Linked DNA regions of Homo sapiens: region 1 is linked to region 2. The links come from fine-mapping of genetic effects on gene expression. A gene starts in region 2. The other region holds a variant in brackets. All regions are shown on one strand. Distances are between the middles of the regions. Region 1 holds the start of B3GNT8 (UDP-GlcNAc:betaGal beta-1,3-N-acetylglucosaminyltransferase 8). Region 2 holds the start of CEACAM21 (CEA cell adhesion molecule 21).

The links.
Region 1: its variant is fine-mapped to the expression of CEACAM21 in whole blood (INTERVAL, PIP above 0.99).

Annotation. Positions count from the first base shown.
Region 1 is chr19:41,423,518-41,431,840 of GRCh38, forward strand. It overlaps BCKDHA (branched chain keto acid dehydrogenase E1 subunit alpha), which reads left to right. Exons shown (of 9, transcript NM_000709.4): 9 at 921-1,485. The coding sequence ends at 1,091. It overlaps B3GNT8 (UDP-GlcNAc:betaGal beta-1,3-N-acetylglucosaminyltransferase 8), which reads right to left and starts at 3,857. Exons shown (of 2, transcript NM_001385648.2): 1 at 3,767-3,857; 2 at 1,842-3,293. The coding sequence starts at 3,261. The coding sequence ends at 2,068. It overlaps DMAC2 (distal membrane arm assembly component 2), which reads right to left. Exons shown (of 6, transcript NM_018035.3): 6 at 7,801-8,323. RefSeq lists silencers at 3,898-4,007, 4,028-4,177 and an enhancer at 7,564-8,323. The variant C/T (reference allele first, on the strand shown) is at 4,245.
Region 2 is chr19:41,571,730-41,580,052 of GRCh38, forward strand. It overlaps CEACAM21 (CEA cell adhesion molecule 21), which reads left to right and starts at 4,437. Exons shown (of 7, transcript NM_001098506.4): 1 at 4,437-4,609; 2 at 5,471-5,830; 3 at 7,624-7,899. The coding sequence starts at 4,546.

The DNA.
Region 1 (8,323 bases), 150 kb before region 2:
AGCCCTGTCTCTACTAAAAATACAAAAATTAGGGCTGGGCGCAGTGGCTCACGCCTGTAATCCCAGCACTTTGGGAGGCCAAGGCGGACAGATCACCTGAGGTCGGGAGTTTGAGACCAGCCTGGCCAACATGGTGAAACCTCGTCTCTAATAAAAATACAAAAATTAGCCGGGCATGGTGCCGGGTGCCTGTAATCCCAGCTACTTGGGAGGCCGAGGCAGGAGAATTGCTTGAACCTGGGAGGTAGAGGTTGCAGTGAGCTGAGATCGTACCATTGCACTCCAGCCTGGGCAACGAGAGCAAGACTCCATCTCAAAAAAAAAAATTAGCCAGGCGTGGTGGTGCGTGCCTGTAGTCCCAGCTACTCAGGAAGGTGAGGCAGAAGAATCGCTTGAACCCGGGAGGTGGAACTTGCAGTGATTGGAGATGGCGCCACTGCACTCCAGCCTGGGCAACAGAGCAAGACTATCTCTTAAAAAAAAAAAAAAGCTGGTTTGAGGATTAGGTGGCAAACCGTGGTGGAGTGTACATGCCCTGCCCAGAGTCAGTGTGCCACCCTCCCTGGCCCGGTCATTAGGACCCAGGGCCCGTGCAGCCCAGTGGTGAGGGCAGCACCCGGCATAGGGCAGCACCGTGTGTCCTGTCCCTGCCCTTCTCTGTGCCTCAGTTTCCTCATTGCTTAGCTGTCTACCTCTTAGGGCTGCTGAAAGCCTTAAATGATTCCACACACTTGGATAGCACCTGATCCCTGCTGGGATTTGAGGGTTTTCATTACACTTCTGCTAGGATAATCATTTCCATTGTCGAGGTGGGAACACAAAGGCTTGGAGTGGTTAATTCCTTGCCAAGGCCCCGCAGGAGGAAGCAGGGTCCTGCATGGGAGGCCGGCTAGCCTGCCCACTGCCCCATGTCCCCACAGGTGATGGAGGCCTTTGAGCAGGCCGAGCGGAAGCCCAAACCCAACCCCAACCTACTCTTCTCAGACGTGTATCAGGAGATGCCCGCCCAGCTCCGCAAGCAGCAGGAGTCTCTGGCCCGCCACCTGCAGACCTACGGGGAGCACTACCCACTGGATCACTTCGATAAGTGAGACCTGCTCAGCCCACCCCCACCCATCCTCAGCTACCCCGAGAGGTAGCCCCACTCTAAGGGGAGCAGGGGGACCTGACAGCACACCACTGTCTTCCCCAGTCAGCTCCCTCTAAAATACTCAGCGGCCAGGGCGGCTGCCACTCTTCACCCCTGCTCCTCCCGGCTGTTACATTGTCAGGGGACAGCATCTGCAGCAGTTGCTGAGGCTCCGTCAGCCCCCTCTTCACCTGTTGTTACAGTGCCTTCTCCCAGGGGCTGGGTGAGGGCACATTCAGGACTAGAAGCCCCTCTGGGCATGGGGTGGACATGGCAGGTCAGCCTGTGGAACTTGCGCAGGTGCGAGTGGCCAGCAGAGGTCACGAATAAACTGCATCTCTGCGCCTGGCTCTCTACCACCTCTGGTCTTTGTTTCCTGGAGTTTGGGGGTGATTTGAGGCCACCCCCAGCTTCTCCACCTTAGATAAATAAGGTCAAGGCTCTTGAGATACCTACTTCCCCCGGAAGCTTGCGCAAGCTGGAAGGTTAACTTCAGCAGACAGGATGGGGGTGGGGGGGTCCTCCAGAGATGGTCTCCTGCTCTCTCACAGAATGGGAGAAGCCTGCTGTCCAGCAGAGTGATGGGGAGCCCAGTGGAGCTAGCCCTGCCCAGCAGGGGTGCAGGGGAGCGTCCAGGATGAAGGTCAGGGTGTGGCCAAGCCCTGCTCCCCACCACTCCAGGGCCCCACAGATGCAAAAACAACCCCAGGCCTCAGAGTGGGGAGTGCATGTTTTTCAAAAACAAAAAGTAGGCAAAAACAGTCCACCACCCCATCTTTCCTGCCCAGGCCCCTGGCTGGGGGAGGCCAAGGAGTGGCTTAAGTTGTCCAGCTTCTGGGCCCTCCTCCCTCCCATCAAGACCTGGAAGGAGGGGCTGAGCCAGGGGCCGGCCCCAGAGGCCCAGGCCAGGTCAGCACCTCCGCCCTCCCCAATGAGAGTCAGCACTGGAGCCTTGGGTCTTGCAGTTGTTTCCAGAGCCGAATGCTGGCCTGGGGGCCCAGGGGCCGTACCAGCAGCAGGTTGCGGAAAGCACAGTGGTCCGCAGTGCGGTCTGCTGGCCAGGCTGTGAGGAAGCCTGGGTGGGCCTGGGGCACCAGGCCCAGGGCTCGGATGCAAAGGCCAGTGTAGACGTCCTCAAAGGGGAAGGGTGCCACACGGGCTGCCGCCCGCAGCAGCCAGGGTGCCAGGCGCCCGGCAATGACGTAGCCACCCCCGCTTGCATAGGCTGGGTAGCCACCTTCGAAGAAGGACTCGGGCACATAGAAGGGTCCTCCTGGCTTCCGGAGAGGCATGGCCTGGGTAAAGACCTCACCCAGGTAGAGGCTTCGGGCCGAGGCAGGTGGCAGGGCCCGCAGGTGAGCCAGCAGGGCAGGGGTGTGTACAAAGGCATCGTCCTGAGCTCGCAAGACAAAACTCACGGTGGGGCAGTGGCGGCCCAGCCAGGCCAGCAGCAGCAGGTCTTTGAGCGTCTGGTTGAATGGGACGTCGAGGAAGTCCCAGAGCAGCAGGTCACTGTAGCGACGGCTCTCCCAGGCCACTAGTGAGTCTAGGTCAGGCCCCGCCTCACCCACCGGAGACCCTAGCAGGAAGAGCAGCCGGATCCCTGGAGCTGGACTGCCCCACGTCTCTCTCACGGCCTGTCGTTCTGCAAAGCGCCCTGGTTCTGACTTGACGGCCAACAGCAGGTAGGGGACATCAGTATCTGAGCAGCTGGAGACTTGGCTGCCACCACCTCCAGGCAGCCACTGTGGGAAGCTCCGGCAGGCTGCTGACAGCAAGAAGCGGCGGAGGTCCTTGGGGTAGGAGGCGAAGTCAGGGATCTCGGTGGCGGCGGCGGCCCCCCAAGCCTGGCAGCCCCCCGTTTCAGTGCTGTCCCCACTGGGCAGGGACCCCAGCCGCCACTGCTGCTGGTTCCAGTAAGCAAAGGGCAGCGGGATAGTCTGGCCCAGGCGGGTGGAGAGGTTGGCAGGTAGGGTGGGCTCAGGGTTGGCTGGCGTGGGGCTTGGCGGGGTGCCCCGAGGGCTGGGGTAGGCCTTGCTGAGCCGGGACTCGGATGTCCACTCGATGTACACTTTGAGGCCCAGGAGTGTGAGCAGTGCTGACAGGCAGAGAAGGCACTTGGGGCAGCGCATGACCCGGCCCAGGGAAGGGGCGGCCGCGGGAGCTACAAGGGAGCCACAGGGGAGCCACGGAGGCCATTGGGGTGTGGGGATGGGCCTCCAGAGAGGGCCCAGCCAGGCCCCAGGCAGACAGCTTCACAATCTCCCATAGTCCCCGCCAACCCCCATAACAGATTCTCTCGGTCCCAGATCCTAAACAGCTCCCCTGACCCAGGGACCTCGTTGGTCCTTATTCCTAGACCTAGGAGTCCCCCATTCCAATCCCGTACCAGCACCCTGTTCTTCCCACTCCGTCCAAATGCTTCCACCTTCCTAAAAGCCCAAGGGTCTACCTCTTCCCTGTCTCCATCCAGGACAAGGGACCTTGCCGTCTATCTCCTCCCTCTCCCTCCATTTATTGCCCTCACCAGGAAATCAGGAGCGGGATTCCTAGCTCCCTGGGGTTAGAAACCCAGCCTGCCTCCCGCAACACCCCAACCCCAGGGACTGGGGAACCAGGGATCCCATGCTTTTTTACCTCTGGGTCTGGCTCCCGCCAGCTCCGGGTGCCGGCCTCAGGTCAGGCCTCCCTCAGCTCCCTCTGATCTGCCTGCCCCAGCCCCTGTGTTGTCGACCGGCGGGGCCCAGCCCTGCCCAGCCAGTCCAGAGGGGCGGGGAGGGGAGTGGAGCGGGAGCAGGGAGGGCCCCAGGGGCCGGGGCGGGGCTGAGGCAGGAGAGAGGGAGGGAGGGAGGGAGGGAGGAGGGCAGGAGGCCGACCTGAGAGATGGGGCTCTGGCGTGTTAGGGCTGGTTTCTGGTGAGACAGCTGGGAAGGGTGCAGGGGGCAGCCACAGAAACAAGACGGGGGCTTTGTGAGGCCTGGGAGGGGAGAACCAGGGCCAGGGGGTGCCAGGGAGGGTGGGGCTGAAGGCTGGGCCTGGGCTGGGGAGTGTTAGAGTGACCAGGGCGAGGCAGGGTCCCACTGAGGCAGAGATGGGGAGGCTGAGAGGCTGGCGC[C/T]CGGCTGCACCCATGGCCAGGAGGCGGCAGTGAATGTGCTGAGTGGGAAGGGATCGGCGGGCCTGCCAGAGGGATGTTTGTTGTTGCTGCCCAGTCAGGGTGAGGTGGGGGGAACGGGGCTGGTGAGGAGAAGGAGAGACAGAGACATTGTGGAGAGGGAAGAGACGGCCAGGGAGCAGAGAGAGGAGAACTGGGGTGAGACAGGCGATGGAGAGAGCTGAGGGGGAGAGAGAGAGAAGACGGGCAAGTGGGAAGGTGGCCAGGAGGGAGAGGGGGAGGGAAATGGAGATGGCGAGAAAGATAAGGGGTTGCGGAAGCCCTGTGGGGTGCTCATGGGGAAAGAGAGGTTGAGAGAGGCAGGTGGAGGGCAGAGGGGAGGGACTCAGGCTTCCGAGCCAGACCCAGGCAGAGGCGGAGAGGGAGCCAAGGGGAAGAACAGGAGAGGAAAAGACTGGAGCTTCAAGGGCAATAGAGGGTGACGGGGTGGGGCCCACGGGGAACCCCGGGAGCTAAGCTGATCCCCTGTACCTCCTCCATCCCTCTCGGCACCCGGGCTGCCTGCCCAGCAGCGTGGGAATCTGTTCCTACCTTACCCCCAACCTCCGGCCTGGAGCCAGCCTCACCCCGGGCCCCTCCCCTCCCCCAGCGGCACTGTGACTCCAGGAACACTCACATCCAGCCCCTTGGGGCAGGAGGGGGTGTCTGCCTGTGTTTGCATCCCTGCCCTCCAGGGGCCCCTGCTGTTGGGACTGCATCAGCTCTCTGAAGACCTCCCAAGACATGGGGTAAGACTAAGGGGCTCCCACTAAGCCTGGGCTGACCCCTTCACTCCACCCTGGTTTGGGGCAGGCCTGTCCCCATCATGGCAGGAACACAGTCTGTCAGCAGCAGCAGTTGATGATCTGTCCAGCCCTGATTTCCTCCCCCAAAGTTTGAATAATGGAGCCTGTGGGAACAGCTGGAGGAAGAGAGTGGGGAGGAAGTGGTGAATATTAATGGAATAATAGTTGGAGTGGGAAATGACAGCTAGGGGCTGGGGGCAGGGGCCCGAGCACCTCCTGAGGGAGTCTGCAAGCCCACTCCACTCTGGGGCTGGGGGAGAGGGACTCCAGGCCCCCTGAGCTCATCTAGCTTCTGGGGGCAGGGGGTGCTGCTCCTCCTGGAAGCATTAGGAAGCTTCACAAGGTGCCTTTCTTTTTGCCTTTGCCATGTGCCTCAGTCCGGGTCCAATCAGGAGAGAGAAACCACACAGGAATGGGAATAGGGAAAGTTCAATATACAGAATGATTAACTCTCATGGGATTGGCCACTAAGGGGTGCCTTCTTGGGGAACATGGTTGGAGGGTGGACATGCTGGTGGAACACGATCATTCCAATCCAACACTTCTGTCTCCCCAAGCCTTGGGACTCCCCTCACCCATCTTATGCTAGGGCAGTTCTGGTCTCTCTGCCTCATTAACTTTAGGCCACTGTTGGATCCAAGTTCCGGTTAGGCACCCAAGCAAGCTATTAGAACTACGTCCAGCTGCACAAGGTAACCCATGAAATCCAGAAGCTCTAGAAAGCGCACTCATGCCAGTAAATTTGGCCTGAGCTAGTGTTACATCCACCCTCATTGGTGTAACATCCTTAAAATCCCCTTCTGCACACATTCCCCAAGTTTCTGACTCTGTATATTTGCGAAGCCTTGTCATTCTTATAGTGTAAAAGCTGCTCCCGCCTAGGTCCTAGCTGGCACCTGTTCACCTGGAGCAAGCTGATTTCACCCTAGGTATTTATGGGTCTAGAGGCAGCAAGGGGCGCTGTGGTGAGTCTTAAGAAGAATGGGGTGTATCTGTTATTTCTGTATAAGAGCTGGCCATAAGAAAAAAAAAACTGTGGTGGGACAGTGGCTCACCCCTGTAATCCCAATACTCTGGGAGGCCAAGAGGGAAGGATCACTTTCCAGGAGTTCAAGACCAGCCTGGGCAACATAGTGAGATCTTACCGCTAATCAAAAAAAAAAAAAAAAAAAAAAGGACGACCACTTTCAAGGTGTCTGCCCCTGGTGAGGTCATCACAAGGTTTTTTTTTTGAGACGGAGTCTCACTCTGTCACCCAGGTTGGAGTGCAGTGGCATGATCTCCGCTCACTGCAAGCCTCACCTCCCAGGTTCACGCCATTCTCCTGCCTCAGCCTCTCAAGTAGCTGGGACTACAGACGCCCGCCACCATGCCCGGCTAATGTTTTTGTATTTTTAGTAGAGACAGGGTTTCACTATTTCTACTAAAGTAGAGTACTTAGGCAGGATGGTCTTCATCTCCTGACCTTGTGATCCACCCGCCTCGGCCTCCCAAAGTGCTGGGATTACAGGCATGAGGCACTGCACCCGGCCTCTGTTTTTTTTTTTGAGATGGAGTCTTGCACTGTCGCCAAGGCTGGTGTGCAGTGGTGCAATCTCGGCTCACTGCAACCTCTCCGCCTCCTGGGTTCAAGAGATCCTCCTACTCGGGAGGGTTCAGCCTTCCGAGTAACTAGGATTACAGGTGCTCGCCACCACGCCTGGCTAATTTTTTGCATTTTTAGTAGAGATGGGGTTTTACTATGTTGGCCAGGCTGGTTTTGAACTCCTGACCTCATGATCCGCCTGCCTTGGCCTCCCAAAGTGCTGGGATTACAGGCGTGAGCCACCGTGCCTGGCCACATCACAAGGTTTCTAAGCACAGGAAGGCTGGTAGGTTCCTCAGATGCTGATAAGTCACTCGCTTGGAGTGACTTGGGGGTTCAAGATCGCCTGTTTACTCTGGGTCCAATTAGATGACCCCATTCCAAAGAAGTAAAAACTTTTGGGCCGGGCATGGTGGCTCACACCTGTAATCCCAGCACTTTGGGAGGCTGAGGTGGGTGGATCACCTGAGGCCAGGAGTTTGAGACCAGCATGGCCAACATGGCAAAACCCTGTCTCTACTAAAAACACAAAAATTCGCCTGGCGTGGTGGTACACGCCTGTAATCCCAGCTACTCGGTAAGCTAAGGCAGGAAAATCGCTTGAACCCGGGAGGTGGAGGTTGCAGTGAGCCGAGAGATCACACTACTGCACTCCAGCCTGGGTGACATAGCAAGACTGTCTCAAAAACAAACAAACAAAAAATCTGGGGGCTGTCATGAAAGCTGTCTAGTTCTCAGACTGTGACTTGAGCTGAGTTAGCGGACCCAAGCTTGTCACTGTCTGTGGGCACTCAAGGGCACTCTGGAGAATCCATCCAATACCCTGGTCTTCAGAATTGGCACAACTAGCACAGCTGTTGAGCACAGCAGCCACAGGGGGTCCCAAGGCACGTGCTTCAGTTGGTCCCTCATCTCCGTCAACCACAGGCACTTGTGGGATTATGATGCCATTGCATGCCATGGGCCTCTGGCATCCTGTTTCCCATCAGCAAGAGCTCAGCGCGGCGCCCAAGCCCAAAGGCACAACCAAACCAATCCTGGAATCCTATCTTAAGAGTCATCTCCTGGGACACTCCAGGTATCAACTCTATATCCATCAGGATGCAGTCAGGAGAGAAAAACCACAGAGTAACTTGAACAGGGAAAGTTTAATATAGAGAATTACTGGCTTTAACAGTGAACTGGAATAATGAGGGCTTCACTGGTAAAATGCTTCTGAATTGACTGGAAATCCATTTGGGGTGCTGGGGAACGTTATTCCCAGAGAGGTGCCTCAGTGGAGGCGCTGTGTCTCCTACGCAACTTCTGAGGGCTGGAGGGTGCCAAGGGCAGCTGCTGACCGCCTGGTGCTTCAGGAGCTGGGTGCTGGGGAAGCCACATGCACTGCGGCGTCCAGAGGCAGAAGCACAACCAACAAGAACCACGAAGGAGGCGCCTTTCCTCCTATAATGCCTGTTTGGTGCCCTCTACTGACAAAGCTTATCCCCTTTCAAAAAACAGCCAACTGAAAAAGCTGAATTTGGAACATAAAGTCAATAAATCCATAACCAGCAATACTATGGGGCCTGGGGTGCGCTGGCCTTTAGTGAGTGGAGTGGGGCGAAGGATGCTGCATGTCCTGCAGTGGGCACAGCGGCCCTGCACGGGGGAGA
Region 2 (8,323 bases):
TCCTGGCCCCTGGGAGCTGGGAGCTGACAGTGCCCTGCTGCCCCAGCCCTGGGCCTTCTCTGAACCTCAAGAACACTGGATGGCCCCCATTTAGGGAGTAGAGAGGAGAGGTCTTTTAAACATCCTCACCAGTCACCTCTCCACCTTTCAGACCCTGGGCAGAATCTGTTGCCCACTCTTGGATTTGATCTTTAAGTTACTGACTTTAAAGCATTTTGACACTTTTTTTTTTTTTTGGTAGTCAGAAGCTTTCCACCTCCTTGGGAAAAGTGATTCTCTACTCTATGTACAGGAATAACCAGTAGAAATAGAGAAAAAATGCATTAATATTCAGAAAGAAGATGATCTCTATGTGAACAAATGAAAGCTTAAAATCATCAGAGTCAACATAAAATCAACATTGCCAGTGCTAAAACTACAAAAGTGACATTAACGGTGAACTAGAAGAATAAAACAAGCATTACAGTTGCTGGTAAACCTAAATCACTTATTTTTTTAAAAGACCATTCTGGTATATTGCAATGATGACAGGAGTGCCCTTCAGTCAATATGATGCCTGTAATTTTTGTGACCTGGCAAGATATACTGTCCCTTCTCCTTTTAAATCTCAAATGCAAAATGAGAGGCAACTCCTGGGTCACCCCCTCCCAGAGCAAACTGCCTGCAAGCAGCCCCTGGAAGAGCAGAGGCCCTAGTTTCCCTGATCCTCAAGGCAGGAGCGATGGGAAGCTCCCTGTAAGCCGGGGGAGAGCTTTGTTCCCAGAATGTTCCTCCTCTTCCCAGAGGCACCAACCCCGATGCCCTGACACTTACCTTCTGCTCTCTCGCCCAATGTTCACTCAAATATTGAGTGCTTGGTGAGTCTGCAGAGCTCAGGAACTTCTGGGAGCCAAATCACCACCAGCTCCTCCAGAAAAGATACCTGTGCACACCCAAAACCACCCCACTGAGCCCTGCCTGGGGTCTGTACCACATCCAGCATGTGCACTGTGAGCATAGAATCCGGCCCTGAATTCATGACCACCCACCAACATGCCCCCAACTGAAACCAGCAAATTCCCACACATGGCAAGCACTGAGGCTTGGAGGTGCTTTCTCACGAGGTGGTTCTGCTTCCACCATGGGGTGGTTGTCACTGACACTGGAAGTTGCTCAGCACCTGATAGTGGTGCAGGACTCAGGGACCCTCAACATCAATCTGGTGAAGGCAGATGGGGCCCCTCCAGATCTTCTCCCACCTGCAGGTGCCCAGCTCAGTAAGACCCCAACCCTGGGAGGAGGATCCAGACCCCTGTGCCAGGTAGACCAAGCTTGAGGCCTCAGGCAATGAGAGAGAAGGAGATGGAGGTCTGACCAGGAGCTGCTCTTCCTTGAGAGCCCGGGTCCCTTCCTTGTGCAAAGGCTTGGCTTATGAACAGAATCCTCAATCTGTAGTGACAGTGCCTAAGAGGATGACATGGACTCCGGCCTGATGTGCAGCCGTCCCTGTCTAACCCCTCCCTGCTGCAGGACAGCACCAGCCCAGGAGAGGAATCCTCAGTTGGGGAGCCAGTAAGAACATGGAATACTCGGGGCCTCTTACCTTCCTCCAGTCCACAGCAGCAGCCACCGTTTGTGCCTAGGACACCCACCTGCTGGCCCTTCTGACCCTTACAGTCAGGCCTTCCAGATGCCACTCCTGACTCAAGGCCCAGCTACTTTCACCCTGCTGAGCCCTGCTCCTCCCAACCAGGGTCACTGCCTTGCTAAGCACCTCCTCCAGCTCCAGCTGACTGGTCACCCAACACCCAAACCCCAGAGGACAAACAAGAAAATAAACAGATATGAAGTCTGAAGGAGATGCAGGCTATGAAGACAAATAAAAGAGTAAGCATGAATATAACTCCACCAACAAAATTGTTTCCCAAAACAAAATCTTCTGTGCCCATGATCATGGAACTAATTGTCCCTCACTATGTAGGCAAGCACTTCCAGGGTCTCTCAATTATTTCATGGGTGTCAATATACACTGTAACATAGCAACTCAGAAAAGAAAGTGGGAATAATTTATCTACTTAGATTAAGGTCCTAAAAAGGTCTCCAGACTGCCAAAAAAGGAGAGCTGAACCACTCCTGCTTTGAGAACCATTGAACTACATCTTTTTTAAAAGTCACCCCAGAATGGCCAAAACAATCTGGAAAAAAAAATTGGAGGACTCACTTCCTAATTTGAAAACTTACTAAAACACTACAATCATTAAAACAGTGTGCTTCTGGCACAAGAATGCACATAGAGATCAATGGAATAGAATCAAGAGTCCAGAAATAAACCCTCACCATTACAGCCCATTGGTTTTTGACATGGGTGCCAAGATTCCTCAATGGGGAAAGAATGGTAGCCTCTTCATATTGTGCTGGAACAACTGGATAACCACATGCGAGATAGTGTAGTTAGACCCCTACCTCACAGCCCATACAAAAGTTAACTCAAAATGTTTCAAAAACCTAAATGGAATAGCAAAACTTATCAAACCATTAGAAGAACATATAGGAGTAAAACTTAATGATCTTGGATTGGGCAATGGTTTCTTCAATATGACATCAAGAGCATAAGTAACAAAATTAAAAATAGATAAGTGAACTTCATCAAAGTTAAAAATGTTTGTGCTTCAAAGAACACCATGAAGAAAGTGAGAAGACACAGAATATGAGAAAAATTTTGCAAATCATGTACCCCATAAGGGACTTGTATCTAAAATATATAAAGAACTATTACAACTGAATAATAAAAAGATAACCCATTTTTTTTAAACAGCAAATGATTTGAATAAATAGTTCTCTAAAAAATATTAAAATTGTCAGCAAATACATGAAAAAATGCTCAACTTCATCAGCCACCAGGGAAATGAAAATCAAAACTGCAATGAGCTATCACTTCACACCTACTAGAATGGCTATAAGTTTTAAAAAATATTAAATAGTAAGTGTTTACAAGAATGTAGAGAAAATGGAACCCTCGTATATTGCTGATGGGAATATAAAATAGCACAGCAAACTGGAAAACAGTTTGGCTGTTTCTCAAAAACTTAAACATAGAACTACCACATGACCCCATATTTATACTCCTATATGTACCCCCAAAGAAATGAACACAGAAACCCAAACAGATACTTCCAAGTGTAAGTTCATTGCAGCGGTTTTCACAATAGCAAAAATGTGGAAACCACCCACATGTCCATTAAGAGATGAATGAATTAAAATTGAGGTATAAACATATATTGGGATATTACTCAGCCATAAATAGGAAAGAAGCTGTAATATATGCTACGACGTGGATGAATCTTAAAAGTGTTACCCTAAGAGAAATAATCCAGAAAAAAATAATACACGTATATAATTCCTTATTATATGAGACATGTAAACTAGGCAAATTCACAGAGATTGATAGTATCAGAGGCTACCAGTGGGTGGGGCAGGGGGAAGTGGGGAGTTATTGATTAAAAGTATGAAGTTTCCATTTGGTATAATGAAGATTTTCTGGTAAAAAATTATGGTGATGGTTGTACAACATTGTGAATAGAATTAGTATCATTTAATTCTACACTTAAAATTGCTAATTCAGTACATTTATCTTATGTATTATACCATATCTAAAGAGATCTTTGGGAAACAAACACTCGCCCTGATCAGATAGTCCTCATACTCATGTACACACCCTTCCTGACCTTCTGTAAAAAGGGATACAAAGATTTAGGGACATGAGACAGTTCAGGCAACTGCAGATCCACAAAATATATGTATTTGCAAAGAGAATGAGAGTTAAGCTGGGGGCACAGACCCCAGACACGGAGAGGGTCCCCCTGAAACCTTCACCAAGGACAGCAGAACCCAGAGCCTCCCACCTCCTTCCATCAAAGTCCTCTCTTCCCAGGACACACAGGACACCTCCCTCCACACCTAGGAGCTGGGGATCCTCCCGAGACCTCCAGGCCTGGGTCTCTGTCCCTGGGTCAGAGGCCAGGCTGGTGACACTGAAGATAGCGGGTGGGTCCTTCCCAGCCATCACCCAGTGAGCCCCTTTCTAGCCCCCAGAGCCACCTCTGTCACTTTCCTGCTGGGCATCATTCTGCCTTCCTGGAGCACTGGAGAGCATGAGGAGACCCAGGGCCCAGCTGGTTTTGTGTGTCACAAAGGGAAATAATCTACCGGCTGTGACAGAACCAAGGCCAGAACACAGCAGAGGTCAGTACTGGGGAGAGTGGGTCGTCCTGTTATGAGGACCCCATCAGCGTTGCTTCTCAAAGTTTTGCCTAGGGAACCAAATATAGGCAAAAAGGAAGGAGAAAGGAGGGACAAGGGAGGCAGGACTGAGAGGGGAGGGGACAGAGAGACATTGTAGGCAGAGCCCCGCCCTTGCCCATAAACGGGAAGTGCTCCTGCCTGAGAGGAAGCTCAGCATAGAGGAAGGAAGGACAGCAGAGACAACAGTCACAGTAACCCTGTCTAGAGCGTTCCTGGAGCCCAAGCTCCTCTCCACAGAGGAGGACAGAGCAGGCAGCAGAGACCATGGGGCCCCCCTCAGCTTGTCCCCACAGAGAATGCATCCCCTGGCAGGGGCTCTTGCTCACAGGTGAGGGGAGGACTCCCTGGGAGTGGGTGGGAGGAGGGAGCACAGAGACTGGCTGGGGTCTCCTGGGGAGGATGGGGCTCTGAGAGGAGACAGAGGGCTTTTGTTAGAGACTCAGGGGAGAGAGCGTCTAAGGAGAACCAAAAAATCTAAGTGAACTGGAATTGCCAAGGGGCAAAACAATCTCAGTTGGTCCATGTTTTCAAGTTCATTGTCAGTGGCCACTACACTTTGAAAATGATAGTAAAACTATATCACAGTGACAATTTAAATAAAAACACCACCAGGGCATGAAACTCTGTCTTCATCTGCCAACCTCAGACATTAGCAAATAAACCCCAGGATATGGAAGGCCCTGGGAACGCTCATGAACTCATCCACAGGAGTCTGCAGCCTGTCCCAGGCACTGGGGTGCAACTAACATCACTCAAGTCCATGCCCTCACAGAGCTCACAATCTCATGGGGGGGAAGACAGACACCCAAAGAGATCTAGAATGTGAGGTCAGGTGCTGACAAGAGCCCTGGAGGGAACAGAGCTGGGAAAGGTCAGAAAGGGAAGACCCAGGGTCTCTAGAGGAGGCTTCACGAAAGAAGTCTCCCAGGGATTCCCTTGTGTGAGTAGGAACTGAAGGCAGTGGGGAGGGAACCATGCAGACCCCTGGGAAAGAGGGTTCACACAAGGAAATGCCAAGGTCAGAGGTACTGAAGGAATGAGGGTCATGCTGCTGACTTTGACCCAGTAGGACACACACACACACACACACCCTCTAAGGCTGAGGGGTGAAGAGACCTGCACCCAGGACCCCGTCTTTCCATGCCAATGCATAGGTCAAATATTGACTGATATTCTCTCCCTTTCCTAGCCTCACTTTTAACTTTCTGGAACGCACCCACCACTGCCTGGCTCTTTATTGCATCAGCGCCCTTTGAAGTTGCTGAAGGGGAGAATGTTCATCTCTCTGTGGTTTATCTGCCCGAGAATCTTTACAGCTATGGCTGGTACAAAGGGAAAACGGTGGAGCCCAACCAGCTAATCGCAGCATATGTAATAGACACTCACGTTAGGACTCCAGGGCCTGCATACAGCGGTCGAGAGACAATATCACCCAGTGGAGATCTGCATTTCCAGAACGTCACCCTAGAGGACACGGGATACTACAACCTACAAGTCACATACAGAAATTCTCAGATTGAACAGGCATCTCACCATCTCCGTGTATACGGTGAGTGATTCCTCCGTGCCTCTGGGTGTTGGGGGTCAGTTCTGCTTCACATACGCAGGATTGTCAGGCCTGGGCTGTGCCTGCATCCCCCTCTGCATTACGTCCCATGTTGGGGTTTGGGCATTTAGTGCAGGACACACCCAGGGGAGACAAACTATAACAGATCAGAATTCCTTTCCCTTATCCGGACTCCGTGGAAATTCCCTACAGCAAGAAGGATAGTCTGATGCGGGAGATGCAGCGGGGGAAAATCAGTCTCAGTCCAACCCCCCTTGGCCTCCTCCTCATAGACATGACCTGAGAAAGATCTTATAGGACTCAGTCAGGGCCTGGCCTGAGGATCCTCTGAGAGAAGCTCAGCCCTTGAAGCCCCTGCCCCAGGCCCCTGTCCCAAGATCCTGACTCCAGATGACCCTGGGGAGCCTGTGCCAGGGCTGGGTTGTGGCTTCCTGGGCAGGGCTGATTGTGAGCAAGGATTTACCAGCTGTCCCAGGGCCGTGGTTCCTAGAGCTGGTCACCAGGCAGGGCTCAGCCCCCAGAGCCCCATCTGGGCAAGGGCAGAGCCTCATCTTTCACCTGAGAGTCAGAGTGGAGAGGACAGACAAACAAACTTCCCAGGCCATTAAACTGGATGGGAAACTTAAAAGATGTCCCGGGAAGTGCACTGTCCTCAGGAGGAGGGAAAGCAGAGAAAAGACACTCTGGACCGCTCCTTCTCCACCAGGAATCAGGCCCAGAGAACTCTTTTTTTTTTTTTTTGGAGTAAAATAATAATAGATGATGTTTATTTGGAGCTATTCTGTGCCAAGCTTTAGGTCAGGTAATTGTAAATATTTTAATGTTAATTTACAGAGAGGATGGCAAGCCAGGGACCATTGACATGTACCCCATTTTATTAAAGAGAAATTGCATCAGCATCACACAGGCTGTCAGTGCTCAACGTCACACCACCGTGTGTCTGCAGCCCAGAATCTGGTCGTGGCCACCACCGTGGGGCATCTGTGGACCCCAGGACCAGATGTTGGTTCAGCTCCTTTCTTCTTGGGCATCCTCAGCTCAGAGAGGGAGATTCTGGTCTGAGGAATGACGGGCAAATGGAGAATTAGTCAGTTTTTACTTAGAACGAAATCACCTGTCTCAACTATCAGACTCAATGCCAGGATTGTCCAAGCCTCTCCCATCAGATCCACATTCCTTCCCTCACTGGACGTGAAATCATGAATTTCTTGATTTGTTGATGTCACTCCCATGGGAGGATGAAGGAAAGGACTCAGCTTTCTCTTCCCACTACACCCTGTACCTGCACAAGGCCCAACTGAGACACACACTCAGTAGTTCTCTGATGAAGGAGGGAGGGAATTAATGAAAAAAGAAAGGAATAATCATAACCTCTTTACAGACTGGGTCCTGGATGTAGGATCCTAGGAGGAGCTGGCCACACCTCTTCCTTGTCCCTTAGGGGCTGAGACCCATGTTCCATTTCTCTGACTGCCTGCTCCTAAAGCCACCCCAGGTATTGCATCTCATGTGACTCTGGGGCCGCTCATCTGTGGGAGGGTTTTCAGGGCTCCCTGGTCCTGGTCTGAGGCAGCTGGGTCCTCCTGGTCCCTGGGGTCTCTGAGGTCACTGTAGTCCCTACTGCTCGCTGCTATGGGTGTCTCTGGTTCTCTCTGCTCCTCCCTGTCCTTCATCTTTCTCCTTTATTCACAGGAGAATGTTCTAAATTTGACTCTGAGATCTCTGAGGATGCAGCATGGCCCCAAGACACTTTCTGTTGGTCACTCTATCCACAGAGTCAGTGGCTCAGCCCTCCATCCAAGCCAGCAGCACCACAGTCACAGAGAAGGGCTCCGTGGTCCTGACCTGCCACACAAATAACACTGGAACCTCTTTCCAGTGGATTTTCAACAACCAGCGTCTGCAGGTCACGAAGAGGATGAAGCTGTCCTGGTTTAACCATGTGCTCACCATAGACCCCATCAGGCAGGAGGACGCTGGGGAGTATCAGTGTGAGGTCTCCAACCCAGTCAGCTCCAACAGGAGCGACCCCCTCAAGCTGACTGTAAAATGTGAGTGACCCTCGGCCCCTCTCACTCCTTTCCTTGTATATTTTCCTAGGAGGGAGGGGGGGTGTAAAATGATACACGGAATGAGAAGGATGAGATTCCTTCAGAGCCTGGGGAGCAATGTGGGTAAGAACTCAGGGATTAGACTCATCCAGTTATCATCCTGGTTACAATAGGTACCAGGTATTTGACCTTGGGCAAGACACTCAACCTCCTGGGCCTCAGTTTCCTCATCTGTAGAATTGTTACAAACACCTGGACCTCAGGGTGGTTGTGAGGATATTTATTCAGAGATTAATGCGATTAAAGCCCTTAACAAGGTCATGCACAGAGCCAGGGCTCAATCAGTGCTATCAATATCGACTGGTATTATTTTTATGAACTTTGTTGTTATTAGCTGTTAAGTTGAGCAGACTTTGGTTACATT